6 separate regions of the Homo sapiens genome follow, and regions 1, 2, 4, 5 and 6 are each linked to region 3. Evidence: fine-mapped expression QTL. A gene starts in region 3. Each other region holds a variant in brackets. All regions are shown on one strand. Distances are from middle to middle. Region 1 holds the start of MAN1B1 (mannosidase alpha class 1B member 1). Region 2 has its middle 3.4 kb from the start of UAP1L1. Region 3 holds the start of DPP7 (dipeptidyl peptidase 7). Region 4 overlaps C8G (complement C8 gamma chain). Region 5 overlaps ABCA2 (ATP binding cassette subfamily A member 2). Region 6 overlaps CCDC187 (coiled-coil domain containing 187).

What was found. PIP is the estimated chance that this variant, and not a neighbour inherited with it, causes the effect.
Region 1: its variant is fine-mapped to the expression of DPP7 in whole blood (TOPMed, PIP above 0.99).
Region 2: its variant is fine-mapped to the expression of DPP7 in whole blood (TOPMed, PIP above 0.99).
Region 4: its variant is fine-mapped to the expression of DPP7 in whole blood (TOPMed, PIP 0.95).
Region 5: its variant is fine-mapped to the expression of DPP7 in whole blood (TOPMed, PIP 0.95).
Region 6: its variant is fine-mapped to the expression of DPP7 in whole blood (TOPMed, PIP 0.98).

Annotation. Positions count from the first base shown.
Region 1 is chr9:137,083,802-137,089,058 of GRCh38, forward strand. UAP1L1 (UDP-N-acetylglucosamine pyrophosphorylase 1 like 1) reads left to right here. Exons shown (of 9, transcript NM_207309.3): 9 at 1-737. It overlaps MAN1B1 (mannosidase alpha class 1B member 1), which reads left to right and starts at 3,184. Exons shown (of 13, transcript NM_016219.5): 1 at 3,184-3,417; 2 at 4,274-4,382; 3 at 5,068-5,204. The coding sequence starts at 3,199. It overlaps MAN1B1-DT (MAN1B1 divergent transcript), which reads right to left and starts at 3,016. Exons shown (of 1, transcript NR_027447.1): 1 at 1,145-3,016. RefSeq lists silencers at 2,538-2,767, 3,318-3,547 and an enhancer at 3,108-3,337. The variant C/A (reference allele first, on the strand shown) is at 2,443.
Region 2 is chr9:137,071,462-137,076,718 of GRCh38, forward strand. No RefSeq gene overlaps it. Among named protein-coding and RNA genes, the nearest start is that of UAP1L1, 3.4 kb to the right of the region's middle. RefSeq lists enhancers at 1-237, 2,821-3,434, 3,145-3,204. The variant G/A (reference allele first, on the strand shown) is at 2,899.
Region 3 is chr9:137,112,129-137,117,385 of GRCh38, forward strand. DPP7 (dipeptidyl peptidase 7) reads right to left here and starts at 2,605. Exons shown (of 13, transcript NM_013379.3): 1 at 2,519-2,605; 2 at 2,335-2,448; 3 at 2,115-2,254; 4 at 1,737-1,900; 5 at 1,233-1,368; 6 at 1,078-1,159; 7 at 825-991; 8 at 617-677; 9 at 1-102. The coding sequence starts at 2,585. It overlaps LOC124902314 (a long non-coding RNA gene), which reads left to right and starts at 2,671. Exons shown (of 2, transcript XR_007061874.1): 1 at 2,671-4,916; 2 at 5,043-5,257. RefSeq lists silencers at 2,301-2,450, 2,481-2,830.
Region 4 is chr9:136,946,031-136,951,203 of GRCh38, forward strand. It overlaps C8G (complement C8 gamma chain), which reads left to right. Exons shown (of 7, transcript NM_000606.3): 4 at 55-162; 5 at 435-536; 6 at 621-659; 7 at 738-945. The coding sequence ends at 751. It also overlaps a transcript of LCN12 not described here. Among named protein-coding and RNA genes, the nearest start is that of C8G, 3.4 kb to the left of the region's middle. RefSeq lists silencers at 3,640-3,739, 3,760-4,259. The variant C/T (reference allele first, on the strand shown) is at 1,522.
Region 5 is chr9:137,012,095-137,016,292 of GRCh38, forward strand. ABCA2 (ATP binding cassette subfamily A member 2) reads right to left here. Exons shown (of 49, transcript NM_001606.5): 21 at 4,197-4,198; 22 at 3,868-4,080; 23 at 3,581-3,777; 24 at 3,320-3,502; 25 at 2,819-3,003; 26 at 2,596-2,716; 27 at 2,074-2,310; 28 at 1,738-1,944; 29 at 1,367-1,469; 30 at 908-1,224; 31 at 618-831; 32 at 391-496; 33 at 171-282; 34 at 8-68. Among named protein-coding and RNA genes, the nearest start is that of LINC02908, 13 kb to the right of the region's middle. The variant T/C (reference allele first, on the strand shown) is at 1,719.
Region 6 is chr9:136,274,636-136,279,892 of GRCh38, forward strand. CCDC187 (coiled-coil domain containing 187) reads right to left here. Exons shown (of 26, transcript NM_001378188.1): 11 at 2,016-2,092; 12 at 1,559-1,666; 13 at 248-372; 14 at 23-114. Among named protein-coding and RNA genes, the nearest start is that of CCDC187, 27 kb to the right of the region's middle. The variant A/T (reference allele first, on the strand shown) is at 2,418.

The DNA.
Region 1 (5,257 bases), 28 kb before region 3:
GATATGCCACTGCTGCCAACTCATCCTCTGCCCCCACCTCGAAACCCACAGTCCCCAGTGGAGGGCCACTACTCATCCCCATTGGTTTCCCAGGGGAGGGGTGTTGTCTGGAAGGGCAGGTTCAGATGCAGCCTTCCAGATTTAGAGGCACTGGGAGGACAGTGGCTGAGTGGAGGCGCCCAGACCTGGGCAGGCAGCAGGCTCAGGCCCACACCTTGTGATTTTTGAAACCAAAGCCCAGAAGATGATGTTTACTTCTCTCTCCCTGGCTCTGCCCTTCTTACTGCAAACCATGCTGTGCCTTAGGGCCCTTCTCATAGCTGTTCCTCATGGCCATGACTGGAACAGGGATGCAACCTCTTTCTACACAAGCACAGTTAGTTGGGTGAAGTCTTTTTTTTTGTTTGTTTTAGACGGAGTTTCACTCTTGTTGCCCAGGCTGGAGTGAAGTGGCGTGACCTTGGCTCACTGCAACCTCCAGGCCAGCCTCAGCCTCCCTAGTAGCTGGGACTACAGGCACCCACTACCACGCCTGGCTAATTCTTTGTATTTTTAGTAGAGATGGGGTTTGACCGTGTTAGCCAGGATGGTCTCGATCTCCTGACCTCGTGATCCACCCACCTCGGCCTCCCAAAGTGCTGGGATTATAGGTGTGAGCCACCGCGCCGGGCCGGTTGCTGGCATCTTAATGTTCTGTAGGTGGAATATTTCCAATAAACACAAGGTGCCGTAATTGACTGCTACTCTGGCAAGTGCAGTTTTTGGGCAGTGCACGGGTGTTGGGAACAAGGATCAGGTGTTCACAGCTGTGTCCCAGGGCTGGAGCTCACTGGGGGCCCCCTTAGGGACAGGAGTTCACACATGAAGGCCAAGACTACTTGGGGTGCCAAGGAATCCCCCCGCGGTCCCATCCCACTCTTCACCAGGGTCTCAGGAGGGCCTGAGACAACCTGCGGTCAGGAACCTCGGGGCGCTCTCCAGGGCAGGCTTCTGCATGCTCAGCTCTGACAGCCTGGAGACTCGCTCTCCTGCACCTGCATCCTTGAGATGCCAAGGTTTCCCTGCTAACCACGTGAGGATGCTTGGGGTACTCCAGGGACTGACAAGAGTGAGTGGTGTCAACCTAAAGAGAAACTCAGGCTCTCCAGAATAAATGAATTTAATCAAGAATAACACATAATTGCAATGCAGAGTATGCAAGCCTCAGTGGGTCACAGGCATGTGGTGGGGGGGTGGGGTGGGGATTGAGGAAAGGGGGAATTTTTTTTTTTTGAGACTGGATCTCACTCTGTTGCCCAGGCTGGAGTGCAGTGGTGCAATCATGGCTCACTGCAGCCTCGACCTCCTGGGGCTTAGGTGGTCTTCCCACCTCAGCCTCCAGAGTAGCTGGGACCACAGGTGCACACCACCACACTGGACTCATTTTTTTATTTTTTGTAGAGACAGGGGTTTCACCATGTTGCCCAGGTTGGACTCCTGAGCTCAGGGGATCTGCCCACCTTGGCCTCCAAAAGTGCTGGGATTACTACAGGCATGAGTCACTGTGCCCCGCCCACGGGAAATTTCTTTTTTTTTTTTTTTTTTTTTTTTGAGACAGAGTCTTGCTCTGTTGCCCAGGCTGGAGTGCAGTGGTGCCATCTCGGCTCACTGCAACCTCCACCTCCTGGGTTCAAGGAATTCTCCTGCCTAAGCCTCCCGTGTAGCTGGGACTACAGGTGCCTGCCACCAACCATGCCCTGCTAATTTTTTTGTGTTTTTTGTAGAGACGGGTGTCTCACCATGTTGGCCAGGCTAGTCTTGAACTCCTGACCTCAAGTGATCCACCTGCCTCGGCCTCCCAAAGTCCTGGGATTACAGAAGCCACCGCGCCTGGCCCCAAGGGGAATCTTTTAAAAAAGAGAAGTTCCCATAAACTGCTTTGAAACCATAAAGACCAAAGGTTAGAAGGGTTTGCCGCAGGCGCTCCGTTGCTAATGTTTTTGTGAGGGCTTCTTCAGGGCCTCTTGTTAGAGTGTGACATAAACGACTTCATTTGGGTACCAGCAAGTGTCACAGGGGGCAGAGACCAGCAGAAACCTAAAGATGACCCCTAGAAGAGCAGGAGGCCAGGGGAACAGAGTTAGACGAGCCACGTGCTAAGCAGGACGTCGCTGCCGGGGGAGCTCTCCAGACACGCAGAAATGCCACAGTCAGGACCGTGGGACGCAGCGGATTCGCCCAAGGGCAGGAGCAGCCTGGCCAGGAGAGAATGAAGGAGGGGCCGGGCGTGAGGTTCGGCTGGGGAGAACCCAGGCAGGGAGGGCCTCGGGCGGCCACGGACGCCGCTTTGCCATTTTGGGCGTTTCTGGGGAGGACAACGCGTGCAGGAAGCGCAGTCATCTCAAGCTGACCTCCAAGGTTACCGAGTTCGAGGGCTGGGAGCCGGGTCTGAAAGCCCCGACC[C/A]GCCTATGGCGCGGGGACTGTGGGTCCAGCCGGCCGATTGGCCGCCTCGCTCGGCGCCGGTCCAGGCGCAGCGCTCGGGCCCCGGGGACCGTGAGATGCGGCGCAGCCAGCTTAGCTCGGGGTAGCAGCCACCCCAGCCCGGGTGCCGCCCGGCCTGGTCCGCGACTTCGGGAGGGTCCGGTCCTTCCCCCGGCCCCCACGCCTGGGTGAGGCCCTGGGCTTCTTGCCGGTGACCACGCGGCCAGGGTGGGCACCAGCCCAGGACGGCGCCCAAGGGCAGCCCAGCTCCATCCCCGCGCCGCGGGTTCCGGAACCGAGGCGCGGGACGCTGGGACTCTCTGCCAACATGGCGGCCCCGCCCGGGCGCCTCCCCGGGTCCCTAGTGTCTGCGTCTCCCGTGAGGGCGTGGGCAAAGTCGGTGCAGCCAGACGACAGGAGGCGAGAGAAGCCCAGCTCCAGGCCCATGAGGCGAACCACGTGGGAGCCCCAGACAGCGACCACGCCCCAGGCGAACCAAGGCCCGCCCCGTTGCTACAGCTACGCTCGTAGCACACCTGGGCAGGCGCTGCCGGACGCATGCGCAATGAACCTGAGGGCAGGGCGGAGTCGCAGCAGTTGTCTGACGCAGTCGCCGTAGGACGCAGCCCCGTACGCTGGAGCGCAGCGGAGACAGGCGCGGGCGCACTGGCCGCATAGAGACGCAGCGCACGCGCAGTCGCGTATCCGTGTGATGGGCGGGCTGTTGACGGCGCTGCGATGGCTGCCTGCGAGGGCAGGAGAAGCGGAGCTCTCGGTTCCTCTCAGTCGGACTTCCTGACGCCGCCAGTGGGCGGGGCCCCTTGGGCCGTCGCCACCACTGTAGTCATGTACCCACCGCCGCCGCCGCCGCCTCATCGGGACTTCATCTCGGTGACGCTGAGCTTTGGCGAGAACTATGACAACAGCAAGAGTTGGCGGCGGCGCTCGTGCTGGAGGGTGAGGGTCGCGCCGGGCTGACTGGGGCCCGGGGCTGCCGTGCCCGCCGCCCTCCCAGACTGCGGCTCCGAGCGGGACCTGGGCGGGCGGACTCGACTCCCCAGGCGCCGCCCTCTCCACCCCTTCCCCGCAAAAAGGGGCAAATGTGCGTTCCTGGTTGGGGCAGCCGTGGGCGGCTCGCCTGCAGCGGTCTCAGCGGCCCAAATTCTGCGGGGCGGTGGTGGGAAGAGGGCTCAGAGCCCCAGCAGGTTTTCTGGGCTTCGTTCGCTTTTCTGCAAGGTCCTGGCCCAGGCGCCTGCCCCTCTTGGAGCGGAAACCGGAGGTTCCCCGTGGTGTATGCTCCCCTCGGTACAGTGAGAAATGAGCCCCTCTTGATTGGCTCCTGGTCTGTTCGTGGTGGTCTCAGGCCGAAGGGCATTGATAACCACATGCGGACTGTGCATCGCCTGGGCGGTGCCTGGGCTACATCTGTGGGAGTCGCAGGAGTCTTTCTCCACTGTTGATGAAATGTGACAGAAATGTTTCTGCTTTTTTCTTATCCTCGTCTCATCTGCACCACTGTATTAACGACATCTGTAGTATTGTCCCAGCAATGTTCCTACTCCCTGCTGAGAGGGAACTTCTCCCCATTCAAAATAAATAGAGCTGGCCGGGCACGGTGGCTCATCCCGCGTTCCACCCACTACACTCCAGCCTAGGTGTAACAGAATGAGACCCTGTTTCCAAAAAAAAAAAGAAATAGAGCTGAACACTGGATCTTCCAGAAGAATTCCTTATTGTCCTCACAGTTTGTGACAGTTGAGACGTTCCGTGTGATATATTCAGTAAGAAATGTCATTCTCTGTACCTCCCTTAGAAATGGAAGCAACTGTCGAGATTGCAGCGGAATATGATTCTCTTCCTCCTTGCCTTTCTGCTTTTCTGTGGACTCCTCTTCTACATCAACTTGGCTGACCATTGGAAAGGTATCAGAAACACGTGTACTTGAAAACGATATCTGTGTTGAGGGTTGATTGGGCAGAAGCAATCTTGCATTCTACCTTAAACAGCTCCAGGAGGCATATATGGCAACGAATTGGCAAGAAATCAAGATAAAGAGAAAGGTAGAGCTGTATGTAACCACCTGGCTAGAACACAGATGTTAATTTGATGCTGTCTGACTACTTTCTAGGTCTCTGGTGTAAGTACTGATATGTCCAGCCTCCCTTATAGAGTAAGTCAGCTGGTGGGCTTGAACACTCAGCCTAAATAACCACACAAATTTCGTAGCACTCATTAGCGTGTGTTTGGAAAAGACCAGGCAGAGTTCTGGTGAGGATGTGGAGAATCTCTTCTCACTTGGTCTAAGATGCTTCTCTTTGGAGCAAAGCTAAAGGGCTCCTGCCCACCTGCCACATGCTGAACGTCCCTGAATGGAAAATAGGAAGGCAAAAGATGTGGGGTTCTGTGTTATGGACAAGGACACAAACTGCCAAGTGTTTTGAAAAAGATTTCATTCCCTTGGGACATTGTTGAATTCATTTCAGTGACTATCAGGTATCATAATGTTGATTTGTAATGGATAGTGCCTGCCAAGTGTTTTTATAAAGCAGTTTAAATCTCTTGTAGGCCTTGTGGCATATTTGAAATAAAATAGCTTCTGTTATTCAGCTCTGGCTTTCAGGCTAGAGGAAGAGCAGAAGATGAGGCCAGAAATTGCTGGGTTAAAACCAGCAAATCCACCCGTCTTACCAGCTCCTCAGAAGGCGGACACCGACCCTGAGAACTTACCTGAGATTTCGTCACAGGTACTTTGAGCAAATGGTGTGGGGTTATAACTGGGGTTCAATCCAGAGGCATT
Region 2 (5,257 bases), 41 kb before region 3:
CCCCAGACAGGCCCCCAATCCGAGACTTGCCTTGGCCCTCTGCGGGTCTCCCACCCTCCCTCCTGGGCAGGCCTCAGCTGGCATACCTACCTGGGTCTCTGTCCTCAGGCCTGAGCCACTGGTGCCTGTGTCTCAAGCTGTAGAGGCATCTTCCCAGGCCAGGGAGTATCCTGGGTCCACTTCTCTTCTGGGTCACTCACTCTAAGTGGGACTCCTTCATCGTAGGGAATGCTGGAAGGACATAAGAAGCTCTGAGCCTGGAGCAGCCCATCAGAGCTTGGTCCTGTAAGCCAGCTTCCCCTTTAATGGCTGGTCTGCTCAAAAACCCAGCACGAGGCCGAGGCGGGAGGATCACTTGAGCTGGGGAGTTCAAGACCAGCCTGGGCAACATAAGGCAACCCTATTTCTACAAAAAGTTTAAAAAATTAGCCAGGCGTGGTGGTGCATGCCTGTGGTCCCAGGTATTTGGGAGGCTGAGGTGGGAGGATCCCTTGAACCCAAGAGGTTGAGGCTGCAGTGAGCTGTGATTGAGCCACTGCTCTCCATCCTGGGTGACAGAGCGAGATCTTGTCTCAAAAACAAAACAAAACAAAACAAACCAGCACAACACGCAAGCCCCCGCCCCCCCATCCCCACACCTACCCTGCTTCCAGCACACCCCTCACCGCCAGTGCCAGGCCTGGGGTCCCTGCACTCCCTCACTTCCAGGCCCCTGTGCCTGGTGGCTCTTCTACCAGGAAGGCCCTTCCCCTCTGCTCCAGGCTGACCGCACTACATCCTTCAGAACTCTGCTCTGGCCCCAGTCCCCTTCCCCCTGAAGCCTAGTTAGATAAAACACAGGGGACAGCTTTCTCCTGGCCCAGGGGGCCCTGGCTATTTGCAAGCAGGACAGGGCTCCTTCTAGGCCTGGCATTGGCCTGGCCCACAGTGGGTGCTCTGTGAATGGCACTGGGGAGCCGTATCCAGTGAAATCATATGGGAAACACCATCCTTGAGTGGGCACCAAGCCAGGCTGAGGCCTAAGGGATGGGGAAGGGCTGGGAACAGCTCAGTGGTATGGCAGGGGAGGCCAGTGTGGATGTGGAGTCGGTGGCCAGCAGTGAGCAAGGCTGCTGCAGCTCAGGACAGCGTGGCCAGCAGTGTCCAGGCCAGGCCAGCCATGGCCCCGCATGGAACTGAACCCACCGTGCAGATGAAACAAGGGCTTTTCATACCATCCAGAGCCTTGGGGGAGGCGGCCCCAGCTGGCCCTTGGTCTGTGGGCTTCTCTGTGGCCCCTGGCTGGGTATTGGAGGAAGGTATGAAAAAGACTGGAGGCCGGGCACGGTGGCTCACGCCTGTAATCCCAGCACTTTGGGAGGCCAAGGCGGGCGGATCACCTGAGGTCAGGAGTTCGAGACCAGCCTGACCAACATGGAGAAATCCCGTCTCTACTAAAAATACGAAATTAGCCGGGCATGGTGGCCCATGCCTGTAATCCCAGCTACTCGGGAGGCTGAGGCAGGAGAATAGCTTGAACCCCGGAGGTGGAGGTTGCGGTGAGCCAAGATCGCGCCATTGCACTCTAGCCTGGTCAAGAAGAGCAAAACTCCATCTCAAAAAAAAAAAAAAAAAAAGGCTGGGCACGGTGGCTCATGCCTGTAATCCCAGCACTTTGGGAGGCCAAGGCGGGAGGATCACGAGGTCTGGAGATCGAGACCATCCTGGCTAACATGGTGAAACCCCGTCTCTACTAAAAACACACACACACACAAAAAATGAGCCGGGCGTGGTGGCGGGCGTCTGTAGTCCCATCTATTCGGGAGGCTGAGGCAGGAGAATGGCGTGAATCCAGGAGGCGGAGCTTGCAGTGAGCCGAGATGGCACCACTGCACTCCAGCCTGGGCGACAGAGCGAGACTCCGTCTCAAAAAAAAAAAAAAAGACTGGAGGCTGTGCCTGGCTTTGGGCGTGGAGCTAAGATGTGGTCCTGTGTCCTTCCTGTCCTGAGCTCTGACCACTTCCTCCTTCACTCCACTTTCCGGCTGGCCTGATAGTTTCCCAATCCTTCAGGTTTTAGTGCTGTGTCACCCCTGGGGGTCCCATGCTGTCCCTGTACTTTTGGAGGCCCCATCTTAGCTGTAATTGTGTTCTCACTGTGTAAGCCTGGACCACTCTGGGCAGAGGTGGCAGGAAGACCGGCCCCTCTGTCCCCTGATGTATCCCCAGCAGTGGGCACCAAGTGAAGAACTGGCAACAGCCACCCAGCCCCTGAGCCTCCCAGGGCTCCCCGTCTGCACTCCTGGCCTCTGAGCCTTAGGGCCTTGCTCCCCTGGGCCTCTTGTGAAGACAACTGCCTGGCCACAAGGTGGTCCAGGAGGTTGCTGCCCACCTCAGCCTTGCCAGCACTCCCACCCATCCGTAGGCTCTGTCGGTCTGGGCAGGGTCGCTCCTCCCCTTCTGGTGCCGCAAGTGCCTCTGGCTGTACAAACCTTGATTTTCCAAATCTTCTATTACAGCCCAACCCACACCTTGAGGTGGGATTTGGAATCACCCTGACCTACAGGGCCAACAGTTCATGTCCTGACACCTGCCTCCAAGAGACATGTGCCTCCTCTGCTGCCCAGCCCTGCAGGGGTGATAAGGGTTCCCATGGACTCTGGCCTGGGGCGGGAAGCCTGCTCTGCTCACCGGATTCCGCGAGCCTCCCCTCCAACTCCAACGTTCACCTAAACGATGTTCAACCACCACAAACCACTGGAGCAGAACAGGCCATTCATTAATTCATTCATGCAGCAGGTACTCCCTGAACATTTGCTGTTGCCCAGTCACGGTGTGGGCTGGGGTTCAACACTCGTTTGTTCAATCAACAAACATTGATTGAGTGCCTACTGTGTGCTGCATTTACCTGAGGTGATGG[G/A]GGCAGACCACTGGCCTAAACAATGCCCTGCCTGGGCTGGGCACGGTGGCTCATGCCTGTAATCCCAACACTTTGGGAGGCCGAGGCGGGCAAATCATGGGGTCAGGAGTTCAAGACCAGCCTGGCCAACCATCGCTACTAAAAATACAAAAAATTAGCTGTGTGTGGTGGCGGGCGCCTGTAATCCCAGCTACTCAGGAGGCTGAGGCAGGAGAATCACTTGAACCCGGGAGGCGGAGGTTACAGTGAGCCGAGATTGCACCACTGCACTCCAGCCTGGGCGACAGAATGAGACACGGTCTCAAAACAAAAAACAAAACAAAACAAAAACAGCAACTCCCCGCCTTTGTGGGGTTCGCTTCTCACAGGGGAGTCAGGTAGCCAAGAATGCAGAAAGGCAGCCTGGCACGGAGGATGGGAAGGTGCTCACCGAGTGGGCGTGGCCTGGGGAGCTGAGGCCTGACCAAATGCGTCCCCAGCCACACGTTTCTCTGGGGACAAGCGGTCCAGGAGGGAGGAACAGGAAGTGCAGAGACCCTGAGGCAGGCCCGAAAAGCAACTCCATGCAGGTCCAGAAGAGTGCATGTGGGCCTTGCCCCAGGGGTGAAGCCCCCTCCCAAACTCAGTGAGGGCATGTGTGTGGAGGTGGGGGCAGAACCCAACTGCAAGGAAACACAACTGCCTGAGGGGTCCACGGGGCAGCATGAGGGAGATGTTAGTTTTCATTTTGGGTCCTAGATCACTGTCAGAGGTGTGTGAACCAGAGCAACTCCATCTTGAATGGGAGCTGGGTAAAATAAGGCTGGGGCCTACTGAGCTGCATTTCTGGATGGTTAAAGGATTCCAAGTCAGGATGACACAGGAGGTCGGCACAAGATACAGGTCACAAAGACCTTGCTGATAAAAGAGGTTCCGATAAAGAAGCCGGCCAAAACCCACCAAAACCAAGATGGCAACGACAGTGACCTCTGGTTGTCCTTGCCGCTACACTCCCACCAGCACCATGACGGTTTACAGATGCCACTGCAACGTCAGGAAGTTCCCCTATATGGTCTACAAAGGGGAGGGATGAATTATCCACTCCTTGTTTAGCATGTCATCCAAAAAAACATAACAATGGGCAACCAGCAGCCCTCAGGGCTGCTCTGTCTGTAGAGAAACCATTCTTTATTCCTTTACTTTCCTGATAACTTGCTTTTGCTTTACTGTATGGGCTTGCCCTGAATTCTTTCTTGCGCAAGATCCAAGAACCCTCTCTTGAGGTCTGGAACCTCTTTCCTGTAACAGCATGATTTGTTTTTCTTTTTCGGTTTGTTTGTTTGTTTTTTGAGACAGAGCTTCGCCCTTGTTGCCCAGGCTGGAGTGCAATGGCGCGATCTTGGCTCATGGCAACCTCCGCCTCCCAGGTTCAAGCGATTCTCCTGCCTCAGCCTCTGGAGTAGCTGGGATTATAAGCATGCAACACCATGCTTATATATTTATATTTATATTTAATATTTGTATCTATTTTTAGTAGAGACAGGGTTTCTCCATGTTAGTCAGGCTGGTCTCAAACCCCAGACCTCAGGTGATCCGCCCGCCTTGGCCTCCCAAAGTGCTGGGATTACAGAAGTGAGCCACTGCGCCCGGTTTTTTTTTTTTTTTTTTTTTTGAGACAGAGTTTCGCTCTGTCACCCAGGCTGGAGTGCAGTGGTGCGATCTTGGCTCACTGTAACCTCCGCCTCCCGGGTTCAAGTGATTCTCGTGCCTCATCCTCCCAAGTAGCTGGGACTACAGGTACACGCCACCACACCTGGCTGATTTTTGTATTTTTAGTGGAGACGGGGTTTCACCATGTTGCCCAAGCTGGTCTTGAACTCCTGGGCTCAAGCGATCATCCTGTCTCGGTATCCCAAGGTGTTAGGATTACAGGCATGAGCCACTGCACCTGGCCACCATTTGAATTCTTTTATGCAGTCACATATATTACTTTTAGACTTACTATATAGTTTCTAGGAGAAAGTTTTGTGCCCAACTGGCAGAAGCTACCCTTTCATATTTTTCACAAGCAAACTATTTTATTTTTATTTTTATTGAGAAGTCTCACTCTGTCTCCCAGGCTGGAGTGCAGCAGCAGGATCTCGGCTCACTGAAACCTCCGCCTCCTGAGTTCAAGGCCTCCTGCCTCAGCCTCCCGAGTAGCTGGGACTACAGGCGCCTGCCACCACACCCGGCTAATTTTTCTATTTTTATTAGAGACGGGGTTTCACCATGTTGGCCAGGCTGGTCTCGAATTCCTGACCCCACTTAGGACTCCCAAAGTGCTGGGATTACAGGCTTGAGCCACCGCGCCGACCACAAGCAAGATATTTTAAAACCT
Region 3 (5,257 bases):
TGGCGTCGGGGCCGGTGCCGCAGCCAGTGGGGTCAGCACAGCTGTGGTAGAGCCGGTAGATGTCGTAGCAGTGCTCGGAGCCCGAGGCGTTGTAGACCAGCCCTGGGGAGGAGAGGCGCTGGGGCCCAGCGGCCACACACAGACACACCGCGGGCTCCGGCCACCAACCTGTCCCCCCTCGGAATGGTCCTGCAGGGGATCTGGGGCTCTGGGATCTGTAGGTCCCAGTGAGGAAGGCCCTCCAGGCTACCTGCTTGGAGGTCGGCGGTGTCTGTGCTGCCAGCCCCGGGCCTGACTGTTGAGGGCCCCCCCGCTCTCCACGGGGCAGGGTGGGGCCTGCTGCCCTCTGTTGCCCTCCATGCTGGGGACCCCAGGGGCCCCTTGGGCAGCACCCACCAAGCTGGGCCTGGCTACAGCCAGTGCTGAGAGGGTCCCCAGGGACGGCCCCTGCCTCCCCCAGGGTTTCTGGGAAGGTCGTGCTGTCCACCCCACCACAGCCCTGGGGCAGGAGGCAAAGCCCCTGGCCGGGCTGCGGATCCTCGCCCCACCCGGCCCCAGGACCCAAGCCAAGCCTGGGGTCTCCACACTTGCCCATCTGGGGCCGGGGGAAGGGCACCTGCCAGTGCTCGCAGCCCCGTGATCCTCTGGGCCTCACTCAGCAGCCGATCACAGCCCACCTGGAGTGCAGGGGCAGCGGCGACTCAGCGGGGTCCCCTCCACCAGCTCCGCCTCCCTGGCTCCCAGGATGAGGGTCAGGCCGCTGACCACCAGCCTCGGGACACTCCAGCCGGCCTCTCCCTGCGCCCTGGGAGGCGGCGCCTCACCTTGACGGGGTTGGCAGGGAGGGGACCCAGGAAGTCAGTGGGGTAGGGGTAGTCCATCATGGCCAGCACGGTGAAGGCATTCCGGGCGAACATGAAGAGCTGGGTCAGGTCCTTCTCGTCTGACAGCGGCTGGCAGGTGCCGAACTCCCAGCGGACCGTGTCGTAGGCTGCGTGGAAGGGGCAGAGACTTGAAGTTTGGGCATAGCTGGCGCTGGGGCGGGTCAGGCAGTGGGAGGCGGTGGGAGGACCTCACCTCCCTGTAGGAACAAGTCCTTGATCTGTCGGAACGCTTCCCGCACACCCTGGGTGCATTTGGGACTCTGGCCCTCAAAGTCCTGGGGGAAAGAGACCGTGCTGACTGCAGCTGCTGTCCCTTAGGGGGCCTGGAGGACCCCAAGCCTCACTCACCGCCGTGACGTCCCGGAAGAACTGGTTGGAGTCGCCGAGGCCTGCCACAGCTAGAACGGGCGCGCTGGCCGCCAGCGCCCCCGCCACCAGGTGGGGATACTTCATCCTCAGGTAGGCACTGAGCATCCCCCCATAACTGGGTGAGGGACACAGGGTTAGGGCTGCTGCCCCCAACACCCCATTTCCTCTTTTCCTCCTCAGGGGCCCACAGGTGCCACAAGGAGGACGACACTTCTGAGACCCACAAATTCCAACCCTGGGCCAGGTGCGGGTGCAGCTCTCACTGGGAAAGGCCGCTAGTGTGGCCGCACATCCAAGCTGAGCAGGTGGCTGGGAGGACAGGTGGGAGGGCTTCCTGGGGGAGGCAACACTAAGCCTGGAACCACTGCCTGAGGCCTTACGAAAAGGCAGCGGTGGGAGTCAGAGGGGAGTGGGGAGAAGGGCTGGGGGCGCTGGGTCGGGGCAGGGGAGGGAGGGGGTGCGGAGGCCGGGGGAGGCGCCCACCTTCCACCGAAGGCGATGGCGGGGGCATCCTGGGCCCCGAGGTCGCGTCGTAGCGCGCGGAGCAGCTCTGCGAAGTCGGCCAGGGCCTGCTCCACCGTCAGCAGCTCCGTGTGCCCGCGCTGCGTGGACTGCGCACCGAACGGCAGCGACTTCCCGTAGTAGCGCTGGGGGAACGTGCCATTGAGCCCGGCCCCGCGACCCCGCCCGGCACCCGCGTGCCCCGCGACCCCCGCCCGCGACCCCGCCCGGCACCCGCGTGCCCCGCGACCCCCGCCCGCGACCCCGCCCGGCACCCGCGTGCCCCGCGACCCCCGCCCGCGACCCCGCCCGGCACCCACGTGCCCCGCGACCCCGCCCGCGACCCCGCCCGGCACCCACGTGCTCCGCGAAGACCAGTAGAGCCCCCCGCTCGGCCGCCAGCTCCGCGACGAAGGCCGAGTTGTTGGCGAAGGCCCACACGTCGCCCTCGTTCCCAGTGTAGAAGAAGATGGGCCCCTCGCCCCGGACCCAGAACCTGTCTGTGGGGAGGGCGGATGAGGCGAGGGTGCCGGGGGGCGGCGGGACGGCGGGGGCGGCCGGGCCGGGGCCGGGGTCTCACCCGACACCAGGAAGCGCTGAGGGAAGGTCTTGTTGCCGAAGCGCTCGAAGTTGAAGTGGTCCAGACGCTGCTGGAAGAAGCGCTCCTGGAAGCCGGGGTCCGGGGCCCTGCGGGCTGTGGGGGGACGCGAACCTCAGAGGCGGGGCCGGGACCGGGGAATGGGCCGGGGGGCGCCGCCACTCACCCCCCGCCTGGAGGCCGCGCAGCCCGAGCGCCAGCAGCAGGACCGGGGCCCAGGGAGCGGAGCCCATGTCGCCTTCCGCGGGCGCCCGTCACGTGGGCGGGGTCACGGGGCCGCCAGGGCGCGCTCCTCCCTCCAGGCCCCACGTGTTTCGGGCGCCCGCGGTCCCCACGGAGACCGTCGCTGCTTCAGCGCCGCGCCGGGGCTGTGCCCCCCAACACCCCGCGCCCCGCGGCCGCTGCCCAGGGGTCCTTCCCGGGCACGGCGCGGGGAAGCAGAGGGCCCCCGGGCCATCTCCGCGGCCTCCCGCCCCACTGGCTCGTCCTCCTACCGCGGCCCCATCCGGAGCTGCGCTAGGGCGAGTCCCTGCTGCGCCCGCCAAGCCTCCCCAGCACTTGCTCCTGGCAGGTGCCCCACTCCAAGGCAGGGCCGGGAGAGTGGGGGCCGTTCTGCTGCCCTAAGGGCGGGAGGGAGAGGGTCCCAAACAGAGTGCTGGCCCCCCGAAGAAAGCAACCCAGGGTTTGTCCAAGCGATAACGGGCTGGGCTTGGCGGGGCGGGGCCTCGCAGCGGGCAGGAGTGTGGGGTGCCCCTGGAGCGTCTGGGCAGGGCCGGGATGTGGCCGGGTAGCTCCCAAGAGCTGGGAATCGCCACCTGCCCTTCCGACTGGCACCCAGTGTGCCCACACAGCCCTGCAGGGACAAGGGGGGACCAGAGGCCTCTGCTGGGAGCTGGGGCCTCCTCCCTGGGGAGCACCCAGAGGATGGAAGAAGTCACCTTTCCCCAGCGTCCAGTTCAGGGAGTGGGTGAGGGGGCCGTAGTGGTGGGTGCCAGACTAGCTACGTGGAGTCCTGCTGGGGATGTACATGGGCCGCTAGCCAGGCCCAGAACAGGTGCAGGGGCAGCAGGGGCTCAGCTACAGAGAGTTACCCTGTCCTTCTCCCAAGACTACCCTCGGCCAGCATGACCCTGCCCTGCCCATCCTGTGTGGGGCTGAGCGGAGAAGACCGGCCACTTCCACAGCCCCTCACGCCATGGCCCTCCCGTGCCTCACACAGAGGCACCCCCCATGGTGGGTGACTGGTGGCTGGGGCCCTCAGCATGGTGGCAGTGACCATCACGTCACACTGCAACACGAGGTCATCCAGGGCCACACACCGTCCCCACCACGGCCCTCACATCTGGGCCCTGTCCCATCCCTACGCAGTTCCTGGGGCTGCCTGCCGGGGCCCCCGCAGGACGGGGGTGAGGACAAACAGCAGACCTCCTTGGATGTGGAGGTACCCCACGGCGTCCCCCACCCCACACCTCTGCTCCTTTGGCTCCCTCGGGTGCCTTAGGTGGCCAGAACTCCACCAGCAACCCTCACCCAGGACCGCAGCTCTGGAGACGCCAGCTAGGCCGAGAGCTGGCCAGCTCCCCAAGCACACCAGAGCCTGGAGACGCTCCAGGCTTGGCTGGGCCCACAGAGGGGCCAGAGCCTCAGGGAGGGCTCCAGGAGCAGGGTTTCCAAGGAAGCCACTTTCCCTCTTGTCCACGGCCCAGGCATTGATGCCCCTCTGGGCAGCAGCCAGGGCCTCCCAAGCCGGGAAGGGTGGGCATGGGGCTACCCAGCATGGCTCTGCCAGGGGTGAGGGTGGCCACAGTCCCCTGCCCACATCCCTGTGCCCACAGAAACATATGCTGTATGGAATCAAGGTTTAAGGCATCTAGGCCTGTGCTGGTAACCTGTAACCTTAGCCCCATCCCTGTGCCCACAGAAACATGTGCTGTATTGACTCAAGGTTTAGGGGATTTAGGGCTGTGCAGGATGTGCTTTGTTAACAATGTGTTTGCAGGCAGTATGCTTGGTAAAAGTCATCGCCATCCTCCATTCTCCATTAACCAGGGACACAGTGCACTGCGGAAAGCCGCAGGGACCTCTGCCCAAGAAAGCCTGGGTATTGTCCAGGTTTCCCCCCAGTGAGACGGCCTGAGATATGGCCTCGTGGGAAGGGAAAGACCTGATCGTCCCCCAGCCCGACACCCATAAAGGGTCTGTGCTGAGGAGGATTAGTGAAAGAGGGAGGCCTCTTTGCAGTTGAGATAAGAGGAAGGCTTCTGTCTCCGACATGCCCCTGGGAACGGAATGTCTCCGTGTAAAACCCGATCGTACATTAGTTCTATTCTGAGACAGGAGAAAACCGCCCTGTGGCTGGAGGCGAGATATGCTGGCGGCAATGCTGCTCTGTTACTCTGCTACACTGAGATGTTTGGGTGGAGAGAAGCATGAATCTGGCCTACGTGCACATCCGGGCACAGCACCTTCCCTTCAAGCTATTTGTGACACAGATGCCTTTGCTCACATTTTCTTGCTGACCTCTGCTCTGCTGCCGCATTCCTCATGCAAAGATAGTGAAAATGGTAATGAATAAATACTGAGGGAACTCAGAGACCGGGGCCGGTGCGGGTCCTCCGTATACTGAGCGCCGTCTCCTGGGCCCACTGCCTTCTCTATACTTTGTCTCTGTGTCTTATTTCTTTTCTCAGTCTCTCATCCCACCTGACGAGAAACACCCACAGGTGTGGAGGGGCTGGCCACCCCTTCACTGGCACAGCAACCTGACATGTGAAGGGGCCCAACTTCTGCAGGAGGACCCCAGGTCTGCATCGCCAGGGCCCTCGTCAGCCTGTGCAGGGCACAGTAGGTCACCCAAGGGGCAAGTGAGCCTAGGCTGCCCATGCCTGTGCAGACACCCCCGATC
Region 4 (5,173 bases), 170 kb before region 3:
GGGATGACGCAGCCACTGTGGCTCTCTGACATGGCTACTGTGGCTCTGCCCCAGCCCGAGACGCCCGAGGGGCTGTGCACGTGGTTGTCGCTGAGACCGACTACCAGAGTTTCGCTGTCCTGTACCTGGAGCGGGCGGGGCAGCTGTCAGTGAAGCTCTACGGTATGTGGGGGCCAGCCTCTGTGACCAGGCAGGCGCTCAAGCTCTGCACACTCACTGGGCCACCCCGAGGGGCTGGGTGAGCCCATGGGGACACACTTCCTTTCTCCCATCCTGATCCTCCTGCTAAGCAGGGGCCCAGGGAGTAGTGACAGACAGGCCTGGTGTGGGAGCAGGGAGAGGGCCCCGAGGGGGCAGGGGACACACAGACCCCGTTTCCAGAGCCCTCCACGCCGCCTGGTGCCAGGACCCCAGGAACCCTGTCTGCCCTGCAGCCCGCTCGCTCCCTGTGAGCGACTCGGTCCTGAGTGGGTTTGAGCAGCGGGTCCAGGAGGCCCACCTGACTGAGGACCAGATCTTCTACTTCCCCAAGTACGGTGAGTGTCCCCAGCAGGTCCCCAGCTCAGCCACCCCCACTCTCTGGGCTGATGTCCAGCCTGACCCCTGCCTTGGGCCCCCAGGCTTCTGCGAGGCTGCAGACCAGTTCCACGTCCTGGACGGTGAGTGCACAGCGGGGCAAGCATGGCGGCGTGGTGAGGGGGGCCACTGCCACCGGCTGAGTCTCGTCTCTGCTGCAGAAGTGAGGAGGTGAGGCCGGCACACAGCTCCAGTGCTGAGAAGTCAGTGCCCCGAGAGACGACCCCACCAGTGGGGTGCCCGCTGCCTGTCCTCCGTGAAACCAGCCTCAGATCAGGGCCCTGCCACCCAGGGCAGGGGATCTTCTGCCGGCTGCCCCAGAGGACAGTGGGTGGAGTGGTACCTACTTATTAAATGTCTCAGACCCCTCTCTGACTCTTCTGTCCACTCTGGACCGGCGCCAGTACCACCAAGGCCCTCTCTGCCCCCACCCCGCCTCTTTAAAAGCCCGGCGCTCCCTGTTGGCTGGAGTCCACGCAGTGGGCACTGGGCCGATTTCAGCGGCTCTTGGGATTTGGGAGGGGAGATCCTCTCTGGCATATGCCCATCTTGTGCCCTGCTGGGACCTGGGGGCGTCCAGCCTCACTCCAAGGCTGCTCTTGCCTGGGCCATTGTCCTGCAGCCCCCGGGCTGCTCTTCCGCCCCCGTGGGAGGCCAGCTGTCTCCCGTCACTGCCCATTTTGGCCTCTTCCGAGCCGAGCTGGCACCAGCTGGCCCGTGTTGGTGGCAGCAGTTGGTGCTGTCCACCCACAGCCACTGCACTCTCTGCACACCTCATCCACTCCCACGTCCCCCGTGAAACCAGGAAGCAGAAGAGAATGTGGGGGTGGGCCAGCTCTGCCCTCGGGGCAGCCCCTGGGCTAGGGCCGGAGAATCAGGAACCCGGCATGGCTTGACCATGCTGGGCCTGGACCTGGCCGCTAAGCTGCTCCTCTCAGGCCCTGC[C/T]TGCGGCCACTGGCATTTGTTTGATAAGCATTTCTGAAGGCCCACTGTGTGCTGGGCCCTGGGACCACCAGGTGGGCTGGTCCCTCCCCCTAGGAACTTACAAGTCCAGGGATCAGCCACCAATCGGCCACAGTGGGCAGGGATGGGAGGAGAAGGCACCTTGGAGTTGGTCCCAAAGCACACGGCCTGGGTGGGGGCAGGGAGGAGCCAGCAGCTGCTTCAGGGGGGTCCCCATCCCACGGGCGGGGCTCCCCCTGCCGTGCCCACCTGTTCACTAAGCTGCTAGACCCCAGGAGGGCAGGCAAGTCAGGTGGTGGGAAGGGGAGGCAGGGGCCCTGACTGCCGGGACCTGGGAAGGAGAAGGGCCCAGGAGGTCGTACCCTTGCATCGCCTTCCCCCACTCCAGCTCCATGTCCCAGAGACCCATGAGATAGCAGGGCGCAGCAGAAGGGCTCAGGGTTCAGAGCTGGCAACGCCGGGAAGACTCTAGGCCTGAGCCCCAGGAAAGCCTCCTCCATGCCTGGCCCCACATCCCCCAAACAGAAAGTGAGGGTCTCATCTGGGGGCAGGAGGAGTCGGGTAGCTGGCCACGGTCACAAGCTTCAGGGAGGGCTGAATGTCCGAGGGGTGGCGCCAGAGACCCACCCGATGACCTTGGGTGCTGTGGTTGGTGGCAGAGTGGCCCAGCCTGACCCTCCACGCCTCTGACTGCAGGGCTGGGTGGGTTCCCGCACTGAGTGAAGTGCGTGGCCACTTGGCTGTGTGCTCTGGGACCAGAGGATGTGCAGCGCAAGGATTACAAGGCATTTCATTTTCACAGAAGCATTGAATGAGCTCTAGTTAAATTTCAAACACTACATAAAATCACGATAGCTCTGTGTGAATCATTGTTCTTTAAAATAGTTTGCATAATTTGGCTGGGCGTGGTGGCTTACGCCTATAATCCCAGCACTTTGGGAGGCTGAGGCGGGTGGATCACTTGAGGCCAGGAGTTCAAGACCAGCCTGTCCAACATGGTGAAACCTTGTCTCTACTAAAAATACAAAAATTAGCTGGTCATGGTGGCAGGCGCCTGTAATCCCAGCTACTCCAGAGGCTGAGGCAGGAGAATTGCTTGAACCCAGGAGGCAGAGGTTGTGGTGACCCGGGATCATGCCACTGCCTCCAGTCTGGGCGACAGTGAGACTCTGTCTCAAAAAAAAAAAAAAAAAAAAAATCTATGGAAATGGCTGGGCGCTGTGGCTCACGCCTGTAATTCTAGCACTTTGGGAGGCTGAGGCGGGCAGATCACTTGAGGTCAGGAGTTTGAAACCAGCCTGGCCAACATGGTGAAACCCCGTCTCTACTAAAAATACAAAAAAAATTAGCCAGGCGTGGTGGTGGGCGCCTGTAATCCTAGCTACCCAGGAGGCTCAGGCAGGAGAATCGCTTGAATCCAGGGGACAGAGGTTGCCGTGAGCCGAGATCGCGCCATTGCACTCCAGCCCGGGTGACAGAGCGAGACTCTGTCTCAATTTATTTAAAAAACAACAACAAACAACAACAAAACTATGCAAACTGGCTGGGCACAGTGGCTCACACCTTTAATCTCAGCACTTTGAGAGGCTGAGGCAGGAGGATCGCTTGAGGCCAGGAGTTCAAGATCTGACTGGGTGGGCAACATAGTGAGACCTCATCTCTATTTAAAAAAAAAGTTTTTTCATCTATAGAAACTAACATTTAATTGTTAGCAGTCTTGCCCAAGACCTGCGGGGTCAGGAGTCCAGGACTGTCCTGGGTGCCCCCGCCTTGCCTGGACGTGAGAGTGCTGTGTGGGGCCCCGGGAGCCCCTGGTCCCACAGGCAGGGCCGACAGGCAGGTGCCGTGCCCGTCCTCCCTGCCCACGCAGGTGCTCAGAGGGACAGGTGGGCCAGGACTCCTCCATGTGGGGACGAGGCACCCTCCTCCCCAGCCACGCCCCAACCACCCCTGGCCCCCCACCCCACCCCCAAGGGGCCTCCCAGCGCCCAGGACCGTGTCTGGGAAAAGGTCTTTGCCCGGAGAGTGGGAAGAGAGAGGGGAGGGTGAGCAGAGGACAGGCCGGGAGTTTTCCGGGAACGGAGGAAGAGCAGTGGAGGGTAAGTCTGTCCTTGTTGCTGTGGGGAGGCCGAGATGAAGGCGATGGGTTGGGGGTGGGGGTGCCGGGGAGCGAAGCAGAGGGAAGAGAGGACCTGATGGGAGGGGTCAATGGGAGAGGCCCCAGGGACCGGTCCCCACGGTGGGCTGGGGGTCCAGGGTGCTGAGTGGAAGCGGCGGTTTCCCTCCCGCCTCTCAAGGACGCCTTGCAGAAGGCGCGGCTGCTCCTCCCCGTGGCACGCAAGCTCCCGGGCACCGCCTCCCGCCTCGGCCTCCCAAAGCGCTGGGCTCACTGGCGTGTGCTGCCGCGCCCGGCCCGCCCACCCCAGGCGGTATGGAAGGCCGAGGTCAGAGCCAGGACTCCCCCGGGAGCCCCGCAGGTGCCTCAAGGCCCGCGTCCTGCACGGCCCGTTCCAGCGCCGCCGGCCCAGCCAGGCAAAGGCACCTGCAGGGCCCTGATTGGGCGGCGGAGGTCACGTGCCCACCCTCCACCAATCACGTTAGACGGGAGGAGCAGCACCTGCGTCTGCCCCGCGGTGGGGGGAGGAGGCGCGCCGAACCCATTGTCGTGTCCGGGAGGCTCCTGCAGGGGACGTGGGGGGCACAGAGGTTAACGGCAGCAGCCAGTGGCTACCTGGAGGCACACACAGACCCCCCAGGGCGGCAGGAGTGGGTCTGGGGGAGGGAGCATGGGGCCTGAGGCGCTGCTTGGAGCCGAGGGACCCTCCTCTGTGTCGAGGACTCGGCCCACCCGACCTCTGCTGCTCAGTCTCTGTGGGTCTCGGGCTGGCCAGGGAAGGCCCGGTTTTCCTCCCGCAGGGCCCTGCATGGGCGGGGTCCGTAGCGGGGACTGTCCTGTACATGGGCTGTGTGCTGTGATCCCAAATCTCCCCAGTGCCCTGCGATAAGACGGGCTCCGGGAGGGGTGCCTGCTGCGCTGAGAGCGGGACCCTGGGGCTGCGGACAGGCGCTCCTAGGCTGGCTGGGGCCAGGGGGATGGTGGAGAGTCGAAGGCGCCTTGGGGAGTTCAGGGGAATGAACAGATTATTTCCAACTTTTCCTTCCCTGGGCCAGCCTCCTGAAACGCTAGCGTTGTGCTGGTGAGACAAGGCACAGCAAGCTGCCCTTCTACGTGGGCAGTGAGGCCTGGGACAGAGCCCAGCCCTGGAGCCCTGAAGTCCTGGGGGCTGGGCTCTTCGAGTGGCCAGGCTGGGGCTGCCACCCAGGGCAGGCTGCCGAGGCCCAGGGCACCTCCTGGGATGAGCCTAAGTCCCTTGTAAGCAGGGCTGGATGAGGGGAGGAGGTGGCCAGGACAGGGAATCTGGGGTGGGAGGGGGCAGCCAGGACAGGGACCTGGGGGGCCTGGACAGAGGCTCACAGGCCAGGCACACGGTGAGTGGGAGGCACCTGGCTCACCCTTGGTGACCCCTAACATGGAGTCCAGCACCCAGAGGCTTCAGCTACCTGTGAGGATGGGAGGAGAGGTCAGGAAGGGGACTCCACTCCCTAGCCCCATCGTCCAAGGGGTGCCAGGGCA
Region 5 (4,198 bases), 100 kb before region 3:
CACTTACAGGTAATCCAGGGAGAGGCTGGCGCTGGTCTTATTCATGGGGTGGTTGGTGACGGTGATGCCTGCACACGGCGGGGCGGGGGCGGCAGCTTCAGGCCCCAGCTCCTCCCCGCCCCGGCCCCAGCTCCTCCCCGCCCCGCCCCGCCCTGCCTATGTCAGCTCACCGTAAGCCGCCGGGTTGCCCTTGCTCTTGGGCAGGTTGGCACGCAGGATGGCGTTGTTGAGGCTGTTGAGGTAGGTGGGCATGCTGTGATAGCCCTTGTTGTTGTAGAAAACCTGCAGAAGGAAGAGGACACAGAAAGGCCCCAGGACCTCAGACCTGGGTCCCTGCAGACCTCGGGCGGCGCTACACACAGCGGGGCCCAGGCCCGCAGCCTCGCTCACCTGGGCAGCCCTGCGCACCGCGATCTTCCGCACCATGGGTGGGGCCCTGGTGCCAAATGAGGCTGGGATGGACTTCAGGACGTTTCCAAAGGTGATGGCCCCATACCTGGGCAGGCAGGTGGGAGGGGCGGTGAGGCTAGGCAGGCAGTGAGGCTAGAGGGGCAGGAGTTGAGACTAGGTGGCTGGTGGCCGGCCACCCTCACCCACAGCCTCCCCACCCAGCTCACCGGTGCAGTCGGAAGCGGTCGGAGGTGAAGAGCAGGTACTCAGAGACATTGTGGCCGGTGATGTCGGTCAGGATGTCGCCTGTGACCACCCGCATCTGGGGCGGGTGCCCGCCCACACTGCTGGGGCAGGAGAAGCCGGTGCCCTGCGCAGAGCAGGTGCAGCGGACGGGCTCCCGTACCAGGCGCGGCAGGGAGGGTGCCGACGTCCACATTTCTGTGGGCACAGCATGGTGCGGTGAGAAGGACCCCTCACTGCCCCTGCCCCCCCAGCAGGCCCCCTGAACCACTACCTGGCCCAGCGGTGGGCGGCAGGGAGACGTTCCAGGCCTGCAGGTCCTCATCCGGGGACGCTGGCGAGTCAGATGGGGCGGGCGAGGGTGGGGGTGGCACGAAATTGGACAGTGGCAGCCCCTGTGTGAAGGACTCCAGACACATGCTGTCGAAGAACCGAGCCGCCAGCAGGCGCGACTCCCCGCTGCTCAGGTTCAACGTGGGCCCCAGCGAGCCGTTGGCGGGAGACTTGAGCACGCAGGTGGCACCCACCCCCGACGGCAGCCGGAACGTGCTCACGAGCTGCTGGGGGCTGGCGTCGGGCGATAGCCGCAGCCTGCGGGCACCGACAGTGTGAGGTGGGGCTGCCAGTCTCCGCCCCTCGCCAGCCCCGCCCCCTCGCCCGCCTGGCCCACCAAGGCTGTCCCCGCCCCTTCACTCGCCCCACCCACCAAGGCTGCCCCCGCTGGAGGCCTCACCGGTACTCGCGGCGCTCCTCGTTGGCGTAGGGGATGAAATTGCCACGGGGCTGGGTGTAGTTGTGGTACTGGGAAGGTGACAGGACCAGCGGGGGCAGATCACCTGGCAGGGCGAGCAGGGAGGCCTGAGCAGGTTCTGCCCTCTGGCCAGCGGCCCCCAAGCCTCGGTCCCCTTCCCCCAACCCCAAGGGATCCACGCCTGGGGTCTGGGACCCGAGGAGACAGGACTCCCGGATGAACCCCGGTGCGTGCCCAGCCTCAGGTGTGGGGTGAGGCCCAGAGTCAGGAAGCTCAGGAGTGGGCATCATCAGGGCTCCCAGCGGGCGGTGGGGGGAGGCAAGCCCAGCACCCC[T/C]GTCCAGCCGGTGGCCTACCAATCTCCGGGACGGACAGGGCCACGGTCATGGCCACGCAGACGAAGAAGGCTGGCAGCAAGATCTGGGAGAAGAGTGCCTTGGAGTTGCGGCGGGCGCAGTGGAAGCGTTTGACCAGCAGCCCGTGGAACTGGCGCACCTTCAGCCACCCGCCGTCCAGCTTGCGGCTGCCCTGGCCGACCCTCGACAGGGCCTCTGCCTCCACCTCTGTGCAGAGAGGTAGAGGCTGAGCAGGTGGTTGCACGCTACCCTCTCCCTACTGGCTGCCCTCATGCCGCTCCCCCGCAACCCTGCTCCCCCTCCCTTGCTGTCCCAGCCTCACCCTGCCACCCCCACCTTGCAGGCTGACATTGTCTGGGTCCTGTGGGTTATCAAAGAGGGGGCGGTAGTCGCCATAGACGTCGGTGTAGCCAGCTCCCTCGTCGCCACGGGCAGAGCCCACAGATGACGCCGACTGCAGCGATGCCTGCGACTGGGTCAGCTCCGAGCACCGGGCCAGATTGCCAGCGTGACCCTCCCCAGACGCCGGGCCCTCCGCCCCAGGGAGCACATCCTTCCTGGACTCCTTCACATCTGCCGCAGTGGAAGGGCCGAGGGGACACTCAGGGCTACTGGCCCCTAGGCCTGCCCAGGACCCCCATCCCCGGTCTTGACCCCAGTTCCCAGGCTCATACACCTGTCCGGGACCTCTGGCCACCAGGACCACCCACCTAGGACCGCAGGCTAACCCCGGGGCGTCCCCTGGCTTCCACCCAGGACCAGGGTGGCGCCCCCAGACACCAGGCAGGAGTGACAGCGCAGGCCCGAGCTGGGGCCTTGTGGGTGGGGTGGGCTGAGCAAGTGGTCCAGGCCCCTCACCGGCCTCACTGTTCTCCAGCGACTGATCCTCCTCCGACACCTTGAGGAACACTTCCTCCAGGGTCGTGTCCATCAGCCCGAAGCTGCTGAGGTGCAGTGCATCCAGGCTGCGCTCCAGGTGCTGCAGGGGCGGTGGAGGGGGAGGCTGCGGCAGGGACGCCCAGGCAGGAGTGCGCCCACCTCCACCACCTGCAACTGCCCCCCGACCCGTGCGCCCTCACACCTGGAAGAGGCGCTCGAAAGCCCCCTTCTTGGCGGCCTCGCTGGGCAGGATGTAGGAGAGCTCCGTGCTTGTGTCTGAGACCAGCAGGCAGGAGGCCACATGCTTGCGGATGAACTGGGACACCTGGAGCTCGGAGCAGCTGCTCAGCGGGGCCCGACCTGGGGGGCTGGATGCCAGCCCTGGCTCTGTGGGGGACGTGGGAGCAGGAAGGAATTCACTCAGGGGCTGGGAGGAGGGACCCCCAATGGGAACCCAACTGGGTCAAGATATGGGCATTGGAGAGGAAGAACCAGGCCCCAGCAGGTATCCTGGGCCCAGGGGGTGACGCTGAGGACCCAGCCTCTCCAAGATACGGGCGTTGCAGAGGGCGGGCCAGGCCCCAGCAGGCATCCTGGGCCCAGCGGGTGACGGTGAGGGCCCAGCCTCTCCATTGTGGATTCTCAGGTGGGGGTCCCGGGGAGAAGGTGGCCCGAAGCCAGCTCAGGCAGCTTCAACACAGACCTTGGGGGCCCCCCGGCTCGGCGGGCCGCTTGACCAGCGTGAGGCGGTACCCGTCGCCATAGGTGCCCTTGAGGAAGAGCGGGGAGCCGCAGCACTTGAGCTTCCCATGGGAGATGATGGCAATGCGGTCCCCAAGCAGGTCAGCCTCATCCATGTGGTGGGTGGACAGAAGGATGGTGCGGCCTAGGACAAGGCCAGACCCAGGGTCAGGGGGCAGGGGAGGCGCCGCCCGCACCCCTGCCCACACGGCACCCCACTCACCTGGCTTGTACTTCAGGATGAGGTCCCAGATGGCGCGGCGCGCGTAGGGGTCCACGCCCGCCGTGGGCTCGTCCAGGATGATGGCGCGAGAGCCGCCCACGAAGGCGATGGCCACGGACAGCTTGCGCTTCATGCCACCCGACAATGTCTGCACCAGTGAGTGCCGTTTGTTGGAGAGCTCCAGGTCCTCGATCATCCTGGGACAGGGAGGTGGGGCATGGGGCTGCTGCTATGCAGAGCCCCAGGGCCTCCGCCCACCTGCCCCGCCCCCCGCCCAGCCCACCCACTTGTCCATCTCTCTGCGGATCTCCTCCTGAGCCATGCTCTTGAGCCGTGAGTAGAACCAGAGGTGTTCCTCCACCGTGAGCCGGTCAAAGAGCACATTGTGCTGCGGGCACATGCCCAGGTTCTTGCGGATCTCATCCATCTCCGTGCGGATGTCGTGCCCGTAGATGGTGGCGGAACCCGACGTTGGAGGGAACAGGCCGGTCAGGATGGACCTGGGTAGGTGGGCGGGGTCATGACCCCACGCCCTCTGCAGGGGCCCCACCCTGCCCTGACTAGGACTCCTGCTCTGGTCAGCAGATGCCCACCGCCCTGCCCCTCCGACACTCACAT
Region 6 (5,257 bases), 840 kb before region 3:
GGGGTTTTGAAGACACCGTCACCTGCAGAGGCTGGCTTGGCCACCACATTCTCTGGCCTGTCCTCGGGACCCTGGGAGGACGTGGCAGCATCTGTGTCCAGAGGCGGGTGTGACCTACAGGTGAGGACATGCCCGGGAGACTTGGCACCAGCGCCCGCAGTGCCCACCCCACTGCCTGTGCCCAGAGACTCTGCAACCTGCATTTCCACATTGGGAGGGGGTGGCCAGCCCCAGCCCCCGACCTCACCTGGGTGTGGCCATCCCTGTGCTCTGAGAGGCTGTGGTCGGCTCTCGGTCCTTGCACATCGGAGGCTGCTCCAGCTTCAACGCCTCCTCTGGCCTGGCCTGGGTCGAGTGTCTCTCCATCAGCTGCTGTGAGGAGTGGGAGGTGTGTTGCGGAGAATGCAGGAGGCGGCTCCACAATTGTGGGCATTGGGTCGGGGCGGTCAGGCCAAGCCCAGTCCCAAGGAGGAGCCTGAAGCTGGGCAAGTCTCCAACCTCAGGGGCCTCTCTGTCCATCCTGCAAGTGGGGCCGACAGCCCCCTTCTGCCTCCCAGAGAGGCCACTGCAAGGAAGCAGGGGTGGCCAGTGCCCCGCCAGGGCTGGAGGGTGTGGGAGCTGGGGGACCAGCTGCATGGAGACGGGTGGGAAGGAAACCCCAGCTCCGGTCCCGGCTGGGGGTGCTGGGAGGGCAGGCACAGGAGGGGAGCAAATCCTGTGATGCGGGGAGCAGGGAGGGAACAGGCAGGGACACAGGGCAGGGTGTCTCTGTTGCTGTCGGTCTGAGGCTGCCTGTATGTGTACTCCCACACACACACACGTGCACACACACCCACACGCGTGCACACACCCACACGTGTGCACGCACATACTTCCATCACTCTCCTGGAGATGCCCCCCAACATGTACCGTGGATGTACTTCCCACCATCGACCCCTGAACCAAACACAGAAGAAAGGTCCACCTCCCAGAAGGTTTATCCCCTCCAGCCAGGTCACAGCCGTCAGCCACCCGATCAATCCCCTGCCAGGGTCACCGCTCCTCGGACTGGGTGACATTGTCCCCTCATGGGGCAGGTGCTGAGCCACCCCGGGCAGTGGGAGCTGCCTTTCGGAGGGGACACTATTGGTGCAGGACGGCCCGGCAGAGGTGGCTCAGGAGACACTAAGCTCCTTCCTGTCTGGCAAGAGACCTGCCGGGGGTGTAAGCACCACATGCATTTTGGGTTGCATGCTCCCATGGAGAGCCCAGGGCTCAGGGGCCTACCAAGCCTGGGACACGGACAGGTGGGAGGCTCCAATGGCCATCTGTGACCCAGCTCTGGTTCCCGCTGGGGCACCCCCCAGTGCCAGCGCCCCCAGGACACATGTGGCTGAAACCTCCTGTTTCTGCATAGAGACTTTGCTTTAAAGGGAGCTCTAGCCTCTGGCTTGCCTCCTCTTGACGAGGGGCACCCACTGTTCCTATGGAAGTCTCCGCATTCCTTCCCAGTGTGACTGACCTTCCCACCCAACCTCCTGCAGAGACAGGGGCTCCCCCTGTGGCAAGCGGCTGCTACCTCCAGCCGCCTCCTGAAGAGCAGCCCATCCAGGGTCTGCTGTGTCTCCCGGGCCTCCAGCTCTGCCCGCTGCCGCAGGAGGGCCAACGCCTGCTTCTGCTGGTCCAGCTGCAGGGAGAGCCCACAGCTCACGGTTCCTGCTGCCCCCAGCCAGGGAGGGTGGGCCCCTTCCTCGGGGGTCACCCCAAGGGATCCTATGTCTGGGCAGGGCCCCTCCCTCCAGCCCCCCGACTTTCTCTCCCTGCCAGGGGCTTCCCCATCAGCCCGGGAAGGCCAGGCGCCCTCTGTCTGTTCCTCCCACCTGCATGCTCCCCTCCCTCTCACCCGGCCACTCTGTTTCTAAATTCTATAGTCTGCACATTAGTGCCACTTCTGCTTGGCCTCTGGGAGACAGAGGCTGCTCCCGGCTCACCACCTAGCAGAAAGGGGACCCAGCTGTCATCGGCCTTGGGCAAACCTTCAGAGAATCCAGAAAGCTGGAGGTCTTCTGTTGGGTGTTGGGAAGGCATCTCACACATGGGTCCTCCTGCTGACCTGTGGAACCATGGAGGGGGATAGCTGAGTGGCCCAGGCCGCTCTCCCGGCCTCCCCTCGCCGCTGCCTTAGTGCACCATGGCATGACAGGTTAATACAGCCTCTCCACCTGCAGGGAAACTGAGGCACAGAGGCCAGGAGTGCAGGTGGCCTGAGTCCTGAGCCCAGCTGGCATCAACTCCATCAACAAGAGCCCCTGCCCTGCATGTCGAGGAAGGGCTGGGAGGGCTGCAGCCCCACGGAAGGACACGGAGACCCACTGCATCTCCTCGTCCCTGCTAAGGCTGGCTCTGCCTGACCCCGGCCAGGACCAACTCCAGGATGG[A/T]TGGCAGGAGTCTGTGGGGAGGGCGGAGGCCCAGGACATGGGCTTTGCCCCCAGACAGACCGGGTCTGTCATGCATTTGCCATGTGACCTTGAACAAATCACTTGTCAGTCAGAGCCCAGTGGGGACACAGAGGTTCCTCCTTCCCTTGTGTGAGGGTCCAAGGAGATAGTTTGGTACAGGCTGGCTGTGCACTCAGCAGGTAGAAGCTGCTGCTGATGGTGTGGACAGGGTGGGTGGGTGATGACGGGGTGGGTGTGAACGGGGTGGGTGGGTGCTGATGGGGTGGGTGGGTGCTGACAGAGTGGGTGGGTGCTGAGGGGGTAAGTGGATACAGACAGGGCAGGTGGGTGCTCACAGGGTGGGTGGGTGCTGAGGGGGTGAGTGGGTGCAGATGGGGTGGGCGGGTGCTGACAGGGTGGGTGGGTGCTGAGGGGGTGGGCAGGTGCTGAGGGGGTGGGTGGGTGCTCATAGGGTGGGTGGGTGCTGATGTAAGCACCTGGCACAAGTCCAGGGCTCTCCTTGGAATTTCTGGGATTGGTCCAGAGCTTGGGTATGAAAACCTCAGCCTCTTCCTTGGATAGTGAAGTCCCCAGCAGCAGCGGAGGGGGCTTCCCTTTCTCCTTGGTGGCCCCAAGTCCCAGCTCTGACTCTGAATGCTGTTGGAGCTCCTGGCCCCACAGAGGCTGCCACCAGGAGGTGCTGCATGCAATGGGGTCTGCAGATGGTGGGGCCCTCGTGATGGCTTGTGGATGAGCGCCTTGGTCACTGTTGGCTGGTGTATGGATGGAGCCAAGACCAGGATCCCCACTCCGACTGTCCCAGAACCGGCAGCTCCTCCAGTGGACTGCTCGCCTTCCCGGAACGGAGCAGCTCAGCCATGAACCACAGCTAAGCCGGTTCCTGGGCGTTTCCACAGCAGCAGAGGACACCCCAAAGCACCGAGACAGGGTGAGCAGCAGGGGCGCCTGGCCACCTGGCGTGCACTGAGCATTCGGGGTCACCCCCGTGGCCCCCATCTAACTGGTGATGATGGGAAGTGAAGACACTCTTACACTTCTTTGTTTGGGTTCAGGTGTCTGTTCTGAGCTGAAATTCCTTTTTTGCAAAGGGAAGAAACCATCTTTTGCTTTTGTTTCATGGCCCTGAGAGAGGCTGAAGCCAGAGAAGGGTCCCCAGCCCCACCAAATGCCCCTCTGGCTCCTGGGAGCCCCACAGTCCTGCGGCCCCCACAGATCTCCCAGCTGTGGCCTGAGGAGGGGGAGTCCTGGTCATCACCGGCCATGTCAGCACCCAACAGATCAGAGGACATGGGGGGACATGAGCTGTTTGTTCCTGAGCTCTGAGCTGTGACCCCGGAGAAAGCGAGCCGTCCCCGAGCTGGGCACGGCCCTGGCTGGACAGAGACTGCAGGAGTCACCCCAGTGAGTGCCCTGACTCCTCTAGCAATGGGTGAGGAGCCCCAAAAGTCTAGCCCCACGTGCCACCCCAAAGTCCCTGGTAGCTGTGAGGATGCAATGGGACAGTTTGACAGATCTTGGCACATGGCAGCTGCGGTCACTGCTGGTAGTGATGATGTTAACTAGCTACGTTCTCAGTCATGTGGCTTGGGTCCTGGGGAGTCACAGCCTCAAACCAGAATGAGGCTGACAGGACCCTTACCCTCAGTGGGGGCTGTGGAGTTTGAGAGCCAGGGCCCTGCTGTCCAACATGGCGGCTGGCAGCCACACCCACCGTTTACATTTAAACTTAACAGAAAATAAAACATAAAATGCCACTCTTCAGTCACACTGGCCACATTTCATGGCTTGACAGCCACATGTGGCTGGTGGCTACCATATTGTACAACTCAGAATCCGGAACATTTCCCTCATTGCAGAAGGTTCTGGTGGACAGTGTGGTGTACCTGTTTAAGTCTAGAAAGTTCCACTGGACAGAGCTAGTCTACATGTTTAAGTCTAGAAGCTTCCATTGGACAGTTCTGGTCTAGGTGTTTAAATCTAGAAGGTTCCATGGACAACTCTGGTCTGGGTGTTTAAGTCTAGAAGGTTCCATTGACAGAGCTAGTCTACATGTTTAAATCTAGAAGCTTCCATTGGACAGCTCTGGTCTAGGTGTTTAAATCTAGAAGGTTCCATTGGACAGCTCTGGTCTGGGTGTTTAAGTCTAGAAGGTTCCATTGGACAGCTCTGGTCTGGGTGTTTAAGTCTGGGTTTCACTGGACAGCTCTGCTCTGGGTGTTTAAGTCTAGAAGGTTCCATTGGACAGCTCTGGTGGAAGTGTTTATGTCTAGAAGATTCTCTCGGACAGTGCTGCCTCCAGTCATAAAAACTAGACCCAACAGACTCCTGTTGCCTGTCCCCCTGGGGCTACTGCACATTCCGCCCATAGGATGGTGAATGAGGTATAGGGGTAAAAACTGCCCCTTCAGGCTGCCCCTTCCAAGGAGGAGGCAGAGCCTGACTCTGACCTCACCCCCTTGGGAGATCCTGGCCAAGACGTGGCTGTCCTGCAGCCATTGGAACTGTCTGTGACTCACAGCAGCCAGCCCCTGCCCATCCAGCCTTCAGGAAGGGCGGTCAGCAAATCCAGCAGTGGGAGAACGGAGCCCCATCCCAGCCCATACCCGGGCACTCTGGGAAGCTTGCTGCACCTCCCTGGGCTGCACTTTCTGGGAAGAGAAAAGGTGCTGCTATGGTTTGAACATTTGTCCCTCCTCATGTTGAAATACAAGGCAATTCAGCCATGAGGCGGCAATTCAGCCACAAGGCGATTCAGCCATGAGGGTTCCACCCTTGTGAATGGATGAGTGCCATCATTGTGGGTGCAGGTTCACTATAAA